2 separate regions of the Homo sapiens genome follow, and region 2 is linked to region 1. A link means that fine-mapping ties the variant in region 1 to the expression of a gene that starts in the linked region. Tissue or cell type: whole blood. Region 1 holds a variant in brackets; the other region holds the start of a gene. All regions are shown on one strand. Distances are between the middles of the regions.

Evidence for each region. PIP is the estimated chance that this variant, and not a neighbour inherited with it, causes the effect.
Region 2: it holds the start of STRADB, and the variant in region 1 is fine-mapped to the expression of STRADB in whole blood (TOPMed, PIP above 0.99).

Annotation. Positions count from the first base shown.
Region 1 is chr2:201,499,550-201,507,549 of GRCh38, reverse strand. All of the region lies in intron 13 of CATSPERT (catsper channel auxiliary subunit tau), which reads left to right. It overlaps LOC124906113 (a long non-coding RNA gene), which reads right to left. Exons shown (of 2, transcript XR_007088052.1): 2 at 4,862-6,917. Among named protein-coding and RNA genes, the nearest start is that of STRADB, 52 kb to the right of the region's middle. The variant T/A (reference allele first, on the strand shown) is at 3,759.
Region 2 is chr2:201,447,399-201,455,542 of GRCh38, reverse strand. It overlaps STRADB (STE20 related adaptor beta), which reads right to left and starts at 3,803. Exons shown (of 12, transcript NM_018571.6): 1 at 3,605-3,803; 2 at 691-797. The coding sequence starts at 702. It overlaps TRAK2 (trafficking kinesin protein 2), which reads left to right and starts at 4,085. Exons shown (of 16, transcript NM_015049.3): 1 at 4,085-4,193. RefSeq lists a silencer at 3,233-3,912 and enhancers at 3,943-4,472, 3,876-4,730.

The sequences.
Region 1 (8,000 bases):
TATTGGCAGGGAACACACATATCTGCTTTTTCATCATTTTCTTGGTAATTCTTATAAATTCTTATTGATGAAGTATTAGAATCATCTTGGCAAGTTCTATAACTCTGAGATTTTAATTGGGGTTGCATTGAATTATAGATTGGTATAGTTTGATATATTTACAAAATTTGCATCCAGGAAAATTCAGTAACCTCTATTTTCTTTATTAATATTTCATAGCTCCTGTTCATTTCTTATTAGATTGATTCTTTAGTATTGGATAGTTTCTGATGTAAACGTGAATGGGATCTTTTTAAGATTATATTTTTCAGGCAATATTTGGACATAGTGTTATATAATACCGTGTATATATTTGTATGTTGATTTTATATTGGTTCACTTTGCTAAACTCTGTTATTCTTAATTTTTCAGTTCTCTTGAATTTTTTTAAAGATAAGTGATCATGTCATCCATTAAGCACAGTTTTGTTTCCTGACTTCTAATATTTCTACCTGTTGTTTCTTTTTCTAATCTTGGCTAAACTATTAAGCAGTATTGGACAGCAGCAGTAAGAAAAGGCATTCTTGTTACAGATTCTGATGAATATTCTATTAGTGTCTCAATTTTAAGTGCAATGCATGAGGTAGGAAAGCACTTTTTTAATCCTATTCCTAGTTTGTTAGAAGATTTATTTGAAAATCAAGAATAAGGTTGATTGGGCTGGGCGCGGTGGCTCACGCCTGTAATCCCTAAACTTTGGGAAGCTGGGACAGGGGGATCACGACATCAGGAGATCGAGACCATCCCGGCTAACACGGTGAAACCACATCTCTACTAAAAATACAAAAAATTAGCCAGGCATGGTGGCAGGCACCTGTAGTCCCAGCTACTCGGGAGGCTGAGGCAGGAGAATCGCTTGAACCCAGAAGGCAGAGGTTGCAGTGAGCCGAGGTCAGGCCAGTGCACTCCAGTCTGGATGACAGAGCAAGACTCCGTCTCAAAAACAAAACAAAATGAAAAAGAATGGGGTTAATTTTTATCAAATGCTGACCCCTGTGGAGGAAATTACACAATTTGTCTCTTATAATTTGTTTATATAATGAATTACATGAATAGATTTTCTAATGTTGAACCATCTTTGTATTCCCATATAATTCCTCCTGGGTTATACTACACAGAATTTGCTATAACTTATTTAGGAATTTTGTACATCTATTCATAATGAGATTGACCTAAAAATTTGGCATCATTTATCTGTAAATGTTGACTTGGTGTTTTGTTTGTTTGTTTGTTTGTTTGTTTTTGAGACGGAGTCTCGCTCTGTCGCCCAGGCTGGAGTGCAGTGGCGCAATCTCGGCTCACTGCAACCTCCGCCTCCCGGGTTCGCGCCATTCTCCTGCCTCAGCCTCCCGAGTAGCTGGGACTACAGGCGCCTGCCACCGCCCCCAGCTAATTTTTTGTATTTTTAGTAGAGACGGGGTTTCACCATGTTAGCCAGGATGGTCTCGATCTCCTGACCTTGTGATCCACCAGCCTCGGCCTCCCAAAGTGCTCGGATTACAGGTGTGAGCCACTGCGCCCGGCCGGCTTTGTGCTTTTTTATAAGTAGATTAGTTTTTTAAAATAACCTTTTAATTTTGGAATAACTGTAGATTTACAGAACACTTGTAAAGATATTAGAGAGTTCCTATATACCCCTCATCCACTTTCTTCCATTGTTAACATCTTACATTACCATAGTACATTTGCCAAAACTAAGAAACCAACATTAGTACGTTACTATTACCTAAATCCAGACTGAATTTGTCCAATTTTTCCATTAATATACTCTTTGTGTCTCAAGATTCAGTACAGAGTACTACATTGCATTTTGTTGTCATGACTCTCCAGTTTCCTCTGGTTTTTGACAGTTTTTCTGATTTTCCTTGTTTTGTTGTTGTTGTTGTTGTTTTTAACATGACTTTGACAATCTTGATGAGCACTAGCCAGGTATCCTGCAGAATGTCCCCAATCTGTGTTTGTCTGATGTTTTTTCCATTATTATGTTTGCATTCTGAGTTTTTGGAAAAAATACATCAGTGGTGAAGTGCCCTTCTCAGTGCATCCTATCAGAGATTGATGATAGCACAGGATGACACTAGGGAAAAAGGCAGCATATGACTGATTGCTTAGAAAAGTGAACCTTCTGGGGGCCGGGTGCAGTGGCTCACACCTGTAATCCCAGCACTTTGGGAGGCCGAGGTGGGCAGATCACTTGAGGTCAGGAGTTCGAGACCAGCCTGGCCAACGTGGTGAAACCTCCTCTACTAAAAATACAAAAATTAGCCAGACATGATGGTGTGCACCTGTAGTTACAACTACAAGAATCACTTGAACCCAGGGGGTGGAGGTTGCAGTGAACTGAGATTGTGCCACTGCACTCCAGCCTGGGCAACAGAGAGATACTTCATCTCAAACAAAACAAAACAAAAAAAAAAGTGAACCATTTGGGGAGCCCCCAGCTAAATTGGTGTTCCAGTACCAGGGTGACTAGTAACCCTACCCTAGCAGGAAATGAAGGAGAACTGGATATGGGTGTTTACAGTGTGCCTTCACAGAATATTTCTTTTACCTGGCAGATGGCCTAATGCCTAGTAATCTGAGACCAGGGGGTCCTTTACACAGGAAACTTGTTTATACTAGCAGATGCCCTTTATCTCTTCTCTGACTTGTGTCCACTTTATTTCTCCTGACCAGTACACTGGCACTAGGAACCTTACCTTATGTTCCCTCCAGCATCCCAGGGAAAACCTGGCATGGAATAGCCCCTAGTTCTTCAGATGGAAGGTGCAAATTTTGCATACCACCACAATAGGAAACAAGTTCAAAGATTTTTTACTTATAGATCCTGGGCAAGGAGGGCACAGTGAGTCAGGAGGGCAGTCCGTCAGTCCCTGGGTCATGAGAAGCAGGAATGAAAAGTCAGACAGAGAGAGAGAGAAGAGCATGTGACAGAGAATAGGGCATGGGTCACTTTAAGTTTGTGGGTAAATTCCTGAATGGTCCATTTAAAGGAAGTGGTGCGAAAGCAGGGAACTCAGTCTGCCAGGTAGGAGAGATGCCTCTGAGTTCTAATCTCTGGCCGCCATCTTGAGCTATTTGGGCATGGTATAGAATTGAAAACTGTGTCAAGAGTGACCAAGCTCTATTTCTGGTATGAGAAATTTAAACTTGTATTCAAAATGGATGTCAAGGCAACATAAAATTGAAGAGTTCACTACAGGGACAAAGTGAGCCTTATAATTGTACTAGTTTACTGCCTGAAGGCAGCAGCACAGGAGCGGGAAGCCAAACAGAACTTGGAGATCTCATTGGGTTGAGGAGATAGAGTCTGAAATTTAGCAGACAGAGGCGAACTGGTAGGGTACCAGAAGAGAAAAAACTACAGCAGCAAGAAAGCTCCAGATAACTGTAAAGAAGTTCCTCTGGAGTCTTTGGCTGAATACTGATCTAAGCAGAAAATTACTGAAAGCAAGGAAAAGAACCACTGGAAAGATAAGGTAGAAAATTATAGGTACTCACACAGGACTTCCAATAATTCCATATTCTCATCAGCCAGAGTGGAAAGACTCATAACACATGAGAGTAAGTAGAATCCTTAGAAGGGTATCACCTTTGTAGAGAGGCTAAATCAGCCCCTTCTAAAGCTCCACTAAAAGTTTCTCTAGACAACCTTCTATGCAATAAATCTTAAAAGAACCCAACTAATTCCAAGTAATTTAAATGTGCATAAGAGCAAA[T/A]TCAAAACGATTTAAAAGAAAGAAAAAAAAATTTATCAATCAACAACATAAAATCCACAATTCCTAACATTCAATACAATGTTACCAGGTGTTCGGCCAGGCACAGTGGCTCACACCTGCAATCCCAGGACTTTGGGAGGCTGAGGTAGGAGGATTGCTTAAGGTCAGGAATTCAAGACCAGCCTGGGTAACAAAGCAAGACCCTGTGTCTACAAAATAAATTTTTAAAATTAGCCAGGTGTGGTGGTGCCCCCCTATAGTTCCAGCTACTCAGAAGGCTGAGGCAGTAGGATCACTTGAGCCCAGGAGTTAGAGGCTACAGTGAGCTGATTTTGCAACTGCACTCCCACTTGGGCAACAGAGTGAGACTCTGTCTCTTAAGTTAAATTTTAAAATTACCAGGTATACCAGCAATGTGTGCCTGAAGTCCCAGCTACTCAGGAGGCTCAAGCAGGAAGATCATTTGAGCCCTGGGGTTTGAATCCAGACTGAGCAACATAGTGAGACCTAGTGTCTAAACAATGAAATAATAAAATGTATTTTTAAAAAATACTGGGCATATAAAAAAGCAATAAAATATGACTCATTATGTAGGGAAAAATCAAATAATAGAAAAAGATCCTGAAATGACATCAATGATAGAACAGAATGTTAAGAGAGCCATTATAAATATAGTTCATACGTTCAAGAAGGTAGAGGAAACGTGAGTATGATGAGGAAAAAAATAGAGGGTATAATTAACCCCAAAGGAATTTTTAGAGATAAAAAATATCTGAAATAGTAACCTTTAAGAGATTAACAACATATTAGATGCTGCAGAAGATAAGATCACTGAACCTGAAGACAGAGGATTAGGAGCTACACAAAAATGAAACACAAATAGAAAAAAAAAACAACACAGTATCACTAACATGTGAAAATACAAAGTGGTATAACACACATGTAACTGGAGTCTGGGAGGGGAACTGAAAAATGATTTGAAGAAAATGGTCAAAATATTTTTAAGTTTGATGAAAACTATAAACCCACATATCTGAGAAGCTCAATAGATTCCAAGGGAATGAACCTAAAGAAAACCATGCTAATAATCACATTACTAAGAATCAATGATAAAGAGAAACCTTTACTCAGAGGGGCAAAAGGCACATTATTTACAGATTTAAATAAGAAATATTTACAGAGGAACAAATAAAAACAGACTTTTTTTTTTTTTTTTTTTTGAGATGGAGTCTTACTCTGTCGCCTAGGCTGGAGTGCAGTGGCACGATCTTGGCTCACCACAACCTCCACCTCCCAGGTTGAAGAGATTCTCCTGCCTCAGCCTCCTGAGTAGCTGGGATTACAGGCGTGTGCCATGACACCCAGCTAATTTTTGTATTTTTAGTAGAGACGGGGTTTCATCATGTTGGTCAGGCTGGTCTCAAACTCCTGACCTCGTGATCCTCCCATGTCGGCCTCCCAAAGTGCTGGGATTACAGGCATGAGCCACTGCACCCGGCCCAGACTTCTTATTAGACTATGAAAGGCAGAAGACTATGGAGTGACATCTTTATAGTAATGAAAGAAAATGAAACCTGTTCACCTAGAATTCATGTTCAAAACAGTAGAAACGTTTTTTGGAGTTTGTATTCACCCTTTCATCTGCTCCTAAGTACAGCAGCACTGTTGGTCTTGAGCAGCAGAAGCCTAGTTCCCAATTCCCTTTATGGAACTGGAGGGAACATAGTTTTATTTGCAAATTATTGTATATGTCCGTTCTAAGCTGGCTGGAGGATACCTGAAGGATGGACTTGCTTGTCTCTATCTCACATAACATGGAATGAGGGCAGGAAAAGCAGTGAGCAGTATTCATAAAAGCTATCTGGGGACTAAAAATCCACAGATAACTGGGTCAAGAGATTAAATCTAATTTCTTCACTTATAAGTCTATTCAAATTGTCTATTTCTACTTGTGTCAGTTTTGGTAGTTTGGCTTTTTTAAGAGATGTGTTTATTTCATCTAAGTTATCCAACTTGTTGGTGTACAAATGTTCATAGTATTCTTATAATCCTTTTGGTTTCTGTAAAATCAGTAATAATATCCCACTTCCATTTCTGATCTTAATAGTTTGAGTCTTTCTTTTTTTCTTAATCAATTTAGCTATAAAGGTTTGTAAATTTTGTTGACCTTTACAAAGAACCATCTTTTGGTTTCACTGATATTCTCTATCGTGTTTCTATTCTCTATTTTATTTACCTCCACTCTAATCTTTATTGTTTCCTTCCTTCTTTTAACTTTAGGTTTAGTTTGCTGCTCTTATTCTAATGTATGCATTAAGGAATGTATACATAGTTCCTTAACATAAAGTTAAGTTGTTAATTTGAGATCTTTCTTTTTTTTTTTTTTTTTTTTTTTTGAGATGGAGTTTCGCTCTTGTTGCCCAGGCTAGAGTGCAATGGCGTGATCTTGGCTCACTGCAACCTCCACCTCCTGGGTTCAAGCAATTCTGCCTCAGCCTCCTGAGTAGCTAGGATTACAGGCATGTACCACCATGCCCAGCTAATTTTGTATTTTTAGTAGAGACGGGGTTTCTCCATGTTGGTCAGGCTAGTCTCGAACTCCCGATCTCAGGTGATCCGCCCACTTTGGCCTCCCAAAGTGCTGGGATTACAGGCATAAGCCACCATGCCCGGCCTGAGATCTTTCTCTTTTTTAGTGTAAATGCTTATAGCCATAAATTTCTCCCCTTAGCATCGATTTTTCTGTGTCCCATAAGTTTTGGTATGTTGTGTTTTCATTTGTCTCAAGGTAGTTCCTAATTTTTCTTGTAATTTCTTCTGTGACCCATTGGTTTTTAAAGAATTTTTTGTTTAATTTCCAAATGTTTGTGAATTTTCTAATTTTCTTCTATTACTGATTTCTAGCTTTATTCTACTGTAAAAGAATAAATTTCAGTATGTGTAGAAGTTTTTCAGTTAAGAATCATGTTAAACATGATTTAACATGAGTTAATCATGAGTAACATGTTAAGCATGAGTAACAAAAACTTAGAAACAGTGCCTTAAATCGTAATATTGTGGTTTCATGACGTCATCAGGGGCCCAGATTCCTTTTCTTTATGGACAGCCATCTTCAGCATGAGCATGTTACTGAAGGGTAACACCAGATGGACTTTATATCTCCAGGCATCACATGTATTCCAGGCAGGAAGAAAGAAAAAGACAAGTTCAGTTACATACTTATCACCTAAGTCGGCCTCTGTGTTTTTGTTTTGTTTTTTATTTTTTGTTTTTATTTTGAAACAGAGTCTCACTCTGTCACTCAGGCTGGAGTGCAGTGATGCAATCTTGGCTCACTGCAACCTCCACCTCCCGGGTTCAAGTGATTCTCCTGCCTCAGCCTCCCAAGTAGCTGGAACCACAGGCGCGTGCCACCATGCCCGGCTAATTTTTTGTATTTTTAGTAGAGACAGGGTTTCACCGTGTTAGCCAGGATGGTCTCGATCTCCTGACCTCGTGATCTACCCACCTCGGCCTCCCAAAGTACTGAGATTACAGGTGTGAGCCACTGCACCTGACTGTCGGCCTCTGTTTTAAGACACTCAGAAGAGAGAGTTAAGATACTCTCTCAACAACTTCCAATTATGTCTAGTTGGCCAAAATTTTGTCACATGGCCACTCCTGTCTGCAAAGGAGGCTAGAAGATGTAGCTCTTTTGATAGGGGACATTTCTGCCCCTTAAAAAAATGTAAGTTCTTGAGATAATACATTTTAGGAAGGCAACTAGCATTTTCTGTCACAGGAATCAAGAGACTACTTAGGATACCACTGCTTGGGGAAACATGATGGTGGCTTGTTCTATAGTAGTAGGGGGGTTGATGGGAAAAAGTGATTGGATATATATATATCATATATAAATTATATATATTATATACTCAATATATATTAATATATAAATTATATATATATATAATTTTTTTTAGACAGGGTCTCACTCTGTTGCACAGGCTATAGTGTAGTGGTATGATCATAGCTCACTGCAACCTCCCACTCCCAGGCTCAAGTGATCCCCCACCTCAGCCTCCTGAGTAGCTGGGACCATAGGCTGCACCACCACACCTGGCTAATTTTTTGTATTTTTTGTAGAGACAAGGTTTTTCCATGTTGCTCAGGCTGATCTCAAACTCCTGGACTCAAGTGAGCCACCTGCCTCAGCCTCCCAAAGTGCTGGGATTACAGGTGTGAGCCACTGCAACTGGTCAT
Region 2 (8,144 bases), 52 kb after region 1:
AGGATCTCACTATGTTGCCTAGGCTGGTGTTGAACTCCTGGGTTCAACTGATTCTCTAGCCTTGGCCCCTAAAAATGCTGGGATTACAGGTGTGAGCCACTACACGTGGTCTACTCATTACTTTTTTAAAAACCACATTTTAATATAAGTATTCCCTATTCAAATATTATTATTATGTATAAAACAGGATGAAAGTCCTCAAGCTACTTAATCTAAAGTAGATACCACGGATCTAAATATAAATAGAAAACCAGTTGGCAGCTATACCTCATATATACATTGATCCAAATGATTTTATTTCGGTTAAGTCAAAGGGGTTATTTTTAATACTGTTTGGCTTGCTTTTGGTCAGATGGAAATTTGTAAAAGGAATTTCTGAAAGATTTAAAAGATAAGGCATAGCTAACTGGTGTGGGTGGCATATCAAAGTATAACACCTATGAGAAAAAGTAGATATGGGACAAAAGATTAGAATAATGAACATATTGAAGTATACGAGAAGTTCTTTATGAAAGAAAGAAAAACTCAATGAGAATGTAATTCATTTCTCAAGTCCAGAAGTCAATCAGGTCAAAACAATATCTCAGAGCATAAGAATATCCCATCAGAATATGCCTTTTATTATGGCTTGGCATTAACATCCAACTACTCTGACAGAACAAAATCAGATCTATATTTACAAAAACTTACCAAAAGAGACATTGAATCACTTTAGTTCACACAGAAAGTGACAAAAATCCATCTATTCCAAAGAAGGCTTTTGTTTTATCTTCCTTTCAAGATGCAGATATATCCTACTATAAAAAACAAAAGCAAAATAATTTAGATTCACATAAAAGTTCCTTAAAGAACCAGTTGCCTTAAACCCATCCAATATTTAGGCAGCTATTCCCTGATACCCAATATTTAGGCAGCTACTCCTTGACACAAGGAGACATTCCTGAAAAGTATCTTTAAAGAGCATTTATTTTTTACTGAACATTATTTGTGATCTGACATCACAACCAAGAAGCAGAGTGAAAACAAAAAGAAGTCCTGAATATTTCCAAAGCCTCAATATGTTTGCATTTCTCCTTCCCTATCTTTTCTATACTGTTTTTTGTTTGTTTTTTAAAGAACGCTGAGCAAATTTGAAAGCAATGTAGAAAACCAATTTTTGGCCCACTTTTGATATAAACAGTGTCACTTACAATAAACCCCAAGAATTTTCAATGGTTCCACATATTACAACTAAACTTTGAGACTTTCCAAAGCCCTTTCTTATTGGATTAATTACGTATTAAATCATTTGGGGTCCCTGACCAGCAAATATGGGAAAGAATCAGAATAACAGACTAGGAAATTAATTCAAGGAGATACAAAAGCACCATCCACGGTTTCCAGACCTTTACTAATAGAAAGGGTGGCAATCTTGTAAGTTTGTGGGTTCAGAGCATCCCTTTACATCTAACCAACATCATCTCTTTCATCTAAATTGTGCTTCATTATTTCAACTCCCCAAATTTGATGAACCCATCTACAAATATGTGAGCAGGATGAGAAAGGGAAGATTTTGTAAACCATAAAAACCATAAAGCAATATCCAATTTTATTGCTAAAGAAAGAGGTGAATTTATTCAGGATGTTCACTATGAACCAAAGGTAGAGATTGGGAGGAAGACGGACCTGAAAGGCTGTGATCATTTAGCCACCTACCATTCATTACCGTCAATTTAAAGCACTGGAGTTTGCTGTGCTGCAAAAGGAGGAAAGCAATGCCTGCCCTGCCAACCTTCCAGGGTGAATGAAATCAAATGAGTTACATCTCAAAGTGCCCCTAATTAGCAAACACTGTATCAGCTTGAACTATGCTTTGAAAGGTACACTCAAATGTACTGATGGCAGTACAAAACTATAAGGTTTATTTGGAAAGCAGGTTGTCAAATGTTTCAATAACCATGAAAATATTCATACTTTTTGACCCAGTAAAATTCCCCGGAGTGATCTATTCTAAGGAGATATCCAAGTAAATGAAGAAACTACACATCATAGTCAATACACTGTTAATCTGTTAACAGCCAAGTAATCATTACACAAGTGTTTAATGAGTGGTTACCATGGGTCAGGCACTGTGGACACCCGCTGGTAATCAGGGCAGACAAGACCCTGGCCACTTGTAGCTGACCTTCCCACAAGCAGAAGGGTTATGGATGTCATGATTAACCAAATTTTCTGGTTATCATGATTTTGTATCCTGCTTTTTTCACTCAATGTCAGCAAGTTGTTACTGATTTTGTCTTAATAATGTGAAACTCCATTACGTTGTCTATTTTTTTCTCTTTTTCAGAAAAGCTCAGAAGAAACAGACACAATCTGGTAAGAATTGTTAGTAATAAAAGGGTTGTCCCTATGGGGTGGTTTAATCTCAGAGATTTTTGCCTTAGATACACCAGACTATTAAGAGATAATTTTACAAGACATTTTGAGGTCAAGGCAGCAGCTGCACCCAGCAAAGGGGTGGGGGTGGGGGATTTGCTGTTATTATAATTTTCTCCGGCATGCTCTTTCACGAGATATGAATATAAACCCTTTCTTAAAAAAAAGTCATATTTAAGAGACTTATATTTCGTATTCACAAGTACATCAGTGCAGTCCCTTACACTTGTATCCAAAACGCTAATTACGATAAAGCTTTATAAGTAATTTCAGTTTGTTCCATAATAGAATGGTTCATGTGAAGACTTTGATCTGAAAGATTAACACTTTCTGTAGAAACCAAAGGGCGCATCTTCTAGAACACGGGTTTTGAGTTAATTTAGGCATTCAACAGAGGCCACTGTTACAGGGAATGCAAAAATGACCCGATGTAACTCTTTGTTGAGCTTTAAAATTACTGTAATTTTCAAAGTGATCTTGGGAACCCATAAAATCTTAACAAAGATCATAGCGACGCACAGTTCAGGAGAATTTTCCAAGCTTAGTGACTCATGCGTTCAACAAATCTTTACTGAGCGCCTACTGGGTGCCAGGCACCGTGCTAAGCAGGCGCCGTGTTACACATCCGTATCAAGTTTTGGGGAAAAGGTACTTGACAAAGACCCAGCAGGGAAAAACACAGCGTTGAATTGAAAAACCGAAGACAAAACGACACTCGAGTATTTAATTTTGTAAAAGGTTCCTTCCTAGTCCTGCTATGGGGGACTTTGCAGCGAACTTGCAGAAGGCGGCAGATAGAGCTGGGGTCTGAGGGTGTCTTCGATATGGCAACTCCCCAAGCCCGAGAGCGCGGCCAAAGGTGAGGGGTGCGGGGAGAGGGCGCCCGGGCGGCCTGGGCCCCGCGCACCTGGCACGGCCGGCACGGCCAACCCGGCAGGCACCACTGGGCGGGCTGCGAACCCGCGGCCCGGGCCCCGCTGAGCCCGAGCTGCACTGGCGCAGTGGCTGCTCGCCACCTCGGGCCGCATTCTTGCCACGGCTCCCGCCAGCCGCCGGTGCTCGGGCTGGAGGTGGGCTAGCGCGTTCTGGCCTCTGGCTTCCCGGGCGTGCGCGGACCAAGGCTCACTCCCTCACACGTCCCCCACCGGCCCCGACACCTTCCCTTCCCGGGCCTGCCTCCCGTCTTTACCCTAGCGGCGACCACGGCCAGCGACTCTCTTCAGGCTGCCAGCGGTGCGGACAGGGGCGGGCGCCAGAGCCCTGCTCGCGGAGGGGCGAGGCGAGCGCTCTAGGCCCGCTCCCGGCGCGGGGCGCGGGAGGGCGGCGAGGCCGCGACCGGGGCCGTGGGCTTGGAACTCTGCACCAGTCCCAGGCTACCCGCTGGGAACGCATTCGCCCCACCCGCGCCGGGGTCGCGGCCCCGCCTCCCTCCCCGGGGCTGGGCAGCGAGAAGGCGGGGCCTTCGAGCTTGAGGCGGGGCGGGCAGGAAACTACAATTCCCAGCAGGTCTTGCGCTGGGGCCGTGGAGGCCGCTGGGAGAGTGGCTCTCCTTTGGCTTCCCCAATTGTGTGGGGGCTGCCATTGACCCGGTGTCGCCGCAGAACCGAGGTCGCCGAGTGATGATGTTGTGAAGTCGCCCGCCTGTCCCTGCCACGCCCGGGCGGTTGCTGGCAGTGGGAGCAGCGGCAGCAGCTTCGGCTGCTGCTTTCAGGCTGCCGCTGCATTAGGGGCTTCCTGAGGAAGCGCGGGCGGACGACAGAGGATGCCGAACCACTCCAGTGAGTAAGCTGTCCGCGCAGAACCCGAACTTGCCCTTGACAACTTCCCCGGAAAGCGGAGGGACCTCCTCGTCCCAAGGTCCTCCGGTACCCGGAGGTCACGCGCGGACGTCGGAGCCGGAGGCTGGGTGCTGGAGGGCTGGGTCCGGGTCCCGCGGTGAGGCGTGGGTTGTTTCCTAAGTGTGGGTGCAAAGTAATGGGCGCTAGGCGCTGGCGTCGGTATTCAGCCCAGCTGCACATCTGAGGCTTGGCAGCTTCTCATAGCGCCTTATCCTCTGCCATACAGCATCCATCTGGAGCCCTGTCTTTTAGGATGAGTGGCTTTAGGGTCGGGCATTAAACCTTAAGCTTCAGTCGCCATCTGTGATGTAAGTGGGAGGAGAGGGTATTGGAAAGAGCTCTTTCTGGGTCAAATAGAGTTGGGCTTTTCTTGCAATTGATTTTGAGCCAGATGCCACATATCTTGAAAAAGAAAAACGGCTGACTTTAGTTTGAAGCGTAAATAATAGATATTCGCACATGTCCTTTTTAGTAGCAGCCCAAAAATTGAATTTCAACTTAAAAAAAAATCTGCGTCATAATAATAGGGATGTTACTTGCTCTTGCTCATGCACCTTTTGCTTAGACCTGCTGTTTCTACGTCAGAAAAAAAAAAAAAAAAGGTAACTTCACAGGATATTCATCAAGTTGATGGAATGGACCATAGGAACAAAAGGAACACTTTCAGTTCTTGGTCTCCGTAAATCTTCCCGACCTTTAGATCTTTGCTGTTGACTTGGAAGTCTGAGGTACAGTAGTCTCCAAATAGCAGGTTAATGGTGGTGACATGACACTTAAAAACAAATTGTGAAGGACATTTGGAGGTGAGAAAGGTCAGGGATGAAGACATTTTATCATCCTAGCAGTTATTCCAACTTTCTTTTCTTTTTTTTTTTTAAGACAGAGTCTCGCTCTGTCGCCAGGCTGGAGTGCAGTGGGGTGATCTCGGCTCACTGCAACCTCCGCCTCCCGGATTCAAGCGATTCTCCTGCCTCAGCCTGCAGAGTAGCTGGGACTACAGGCGCGCACCACCACGCCCAGCTAATTTTTGTGTTTTTAGTAGAGATGGGGTTTCACCATGTTGGCCAGGATGGTCTCGATCTCTTGACCTCATGATCCACCCGCTTTGGCCTCCCAAAGTGCTGGGATTACAGACGTGAGCCGCCACACCCAGCTCCAGTTTTCTATTTTTAAAATTAAGTAATGTCCAGCAAGTCTCAGACATTTAGCAAGCACATACCATGTGAAAGACAGTGTTTTGTTATCTTACACACTTATTCATATGATGGAAGAGGTTTGTTAGAAAGAACCAACATTTGGCCGGGCGCTGTGGCTCACTCCTGTAATCCCAGCACTTTGGGAGGCCAAGGAGGACAGATCTCCTGAGGTGGAGAGTTCAAGAACAGCCTGACCAACATGGAGAAACCCGTCTCTACTGAAAGGAAATACACCAGCCTGGCCAATATGGTGAAACCCCGTCTCTACTAAAAATACAGAAATTAGCCGGGCGTGGTGGCACGCGCCTGTAGTCCCAGCTACTCGGAGGCTAAGGCAGAAGAATTGCTTGAACCCGGAGGCAGAGGTTGCAGTGAGCCAAGATTGCACCCCTGCACTCCAGCCTGGGCAACAGCGAGACTCCATCTCAAAAAAAAAAAAAAATTAGCCAGGCATGGTGGCACATGCCTGCAGTCCCAGCTACTGAGGAGGCTGAGGCAGGAGAATCGCTTGAACCCAGGAGGCGGAGGTTGCGGTGAGCCAAGATCGAGCCATTGCACTCCAGTCTGGGCAACAAGAGTGAAACTCAGTCTCAAAAAAAAAAAAAAAAAAAAAGAACCAACATTTTAGTATTTGCAATCTGCCAGGCACCCCAGGTGGGAGCTCTTCATACTTTAGCTCACTTAATCACTTTAACAAACCTATCACACTAATCTGAGGCTCAAAGACTTGCTTATGTAACAAGGGGAGATTTAAATCTAGATCTGCCTTGCTTCCAAGTCACAGATCAGGTAACTAATACGTACTTCAGAAATTATAGACTTTAAAGGTTGAGTGGTTAAAGAGGATTGTCTAGTGTTATTGTCTAAGACTGGTTCCAACACACACCTTGGACATCTGGAATAAGTCCTGAACCCCTGCTTTAGTACTTTTGAACAAACTGATTCTCTCTGCCTACAATTCCCATTTCTTACTGAACTGCTCAGTAAGACCCGAAAAGCCCATTCCAAATCCATCTCACTTATGTAAGAAATTATAAGACTGGACTTTTATCAAAAGGTTCTTTTCAGTTTACAGGTTTTGTGAGTCTGCAAATAAAAATATGACCCTGCTGGGTGTGGTGACTCACACCTGTAATCTCAGCACTTTGAGAGCCCGAGGCAGGAGGATGACTTGAGACCAGCCTGTTCAACATAGCAAAACCCCATGTCTACCAAAAATAAAAAATAGCTGGGTGTGGTTGTTTGTGCCTGTAGTGCCAGCTGAGATCAAAGGATCCCTTGAGCGATGATGGCACCACTGCACTCCAGCTTGAGTGACAGAGTGAGACGCCATCTCTAAAAAAAATTAAAATACGAGCAGAGAAGTGTTATTCTCCACTGAAACTTTCTTTGCTTTAGTGCCCCAAATATGTTAAATACCAGTATAAGGAATGAGACAGATAATGTCTTATTTCATGTTTATTGTGAGCTCTCATTATATTATCTGTACCAGTTTTGAACCTCTTTAGTTACCATCCTGTTTAGTTGGTAAGAAATAGGAGGCAAAAAGGTAATAGTCACATTTAAATGACTTAGTAATTAAAAGAACTAAATTATTCATAGTTGAGTCATTATCTGTTCAGATCTGCAGTGTTCTTATAATAATAGGAAACATTTATGTAATACTATGTGTTAGATAATGTTTTACCTATATTAACTTATCCTCACAATAGCACTGAGGTGTTTTTATAGATAGGCAACTAAAGCAAAGAGAAGATAGTAAATATACCAAAGGTCATGTAGCTACTACATGGTAGTACTGAGTGTCAGAGAAGACAAGATCAAAATCTGTAATCTAACATTTATTGAGAACCTACTGTGTACCAGCCCCACAGCTGGGTGCTTTCATTATGAGTTAGTCATTTGTCTTTACAACTACCTTATTTAAAATGGAAGTTCAGCATGTAATGACTTGCTCAGAGTCACAGATAAGTAAACTGTGGAATCAGGATTTGAACCCATGCTTGTCGTACTTCAAGGTTCCTGTTCTTTCTTTCATTTTCCTTCAGTGATCAAATCTTTATTAAACACCTTCTGTGTGCCACACACTGTGCCAATGCTAGGAATTTAGTCTTTGCTCTTAAGGAATGTAGTTTGAAGAAGGAAAGAGACAATTAACATAGTGTGTTGAGCAATGGGATCACAGCTTGCCGAGGTACTTTGGGAGCACAGAGAAAGAACACTGAAGTTACTCTGGAGTGGGAAGGCTTGGACCAGTCTTGGGAAAACAAATGGGAATTAGCCTGGGCAGAGAAAAGGGGAAGGGGTTGTTATGGGCTGAATTGTGTCCTCCCAAAATTATATTGAAGCCCTAACAGCCGTAACCTCAGAATGTGACTGTATTTGGAGACAGGGCTTTGGGGTGATTAAGTTCAGATGAAGCCGTTAGGGTGGGTTCTAATCCAGTCTGACAGTTTTCCTTATAAGAAGGAAATTTGAGCACAAAAAGAGACACAGGAGTTGCACACACAAAGGAAAGACCATGTGAGGATTCATCAAGAAGACCAAGGAGAGAGGCCTCAGGAGAAACCAACCTGCCAACACCTTGATTTTGGACTTCCAGACTCCAGTATTGTGAAAAAATAAATTTCTGTTGTTGAAGCCACCCAGTCTGTGGTAGTTTTTTATGGAACCCCTAGCAAACTAACAAATAGGT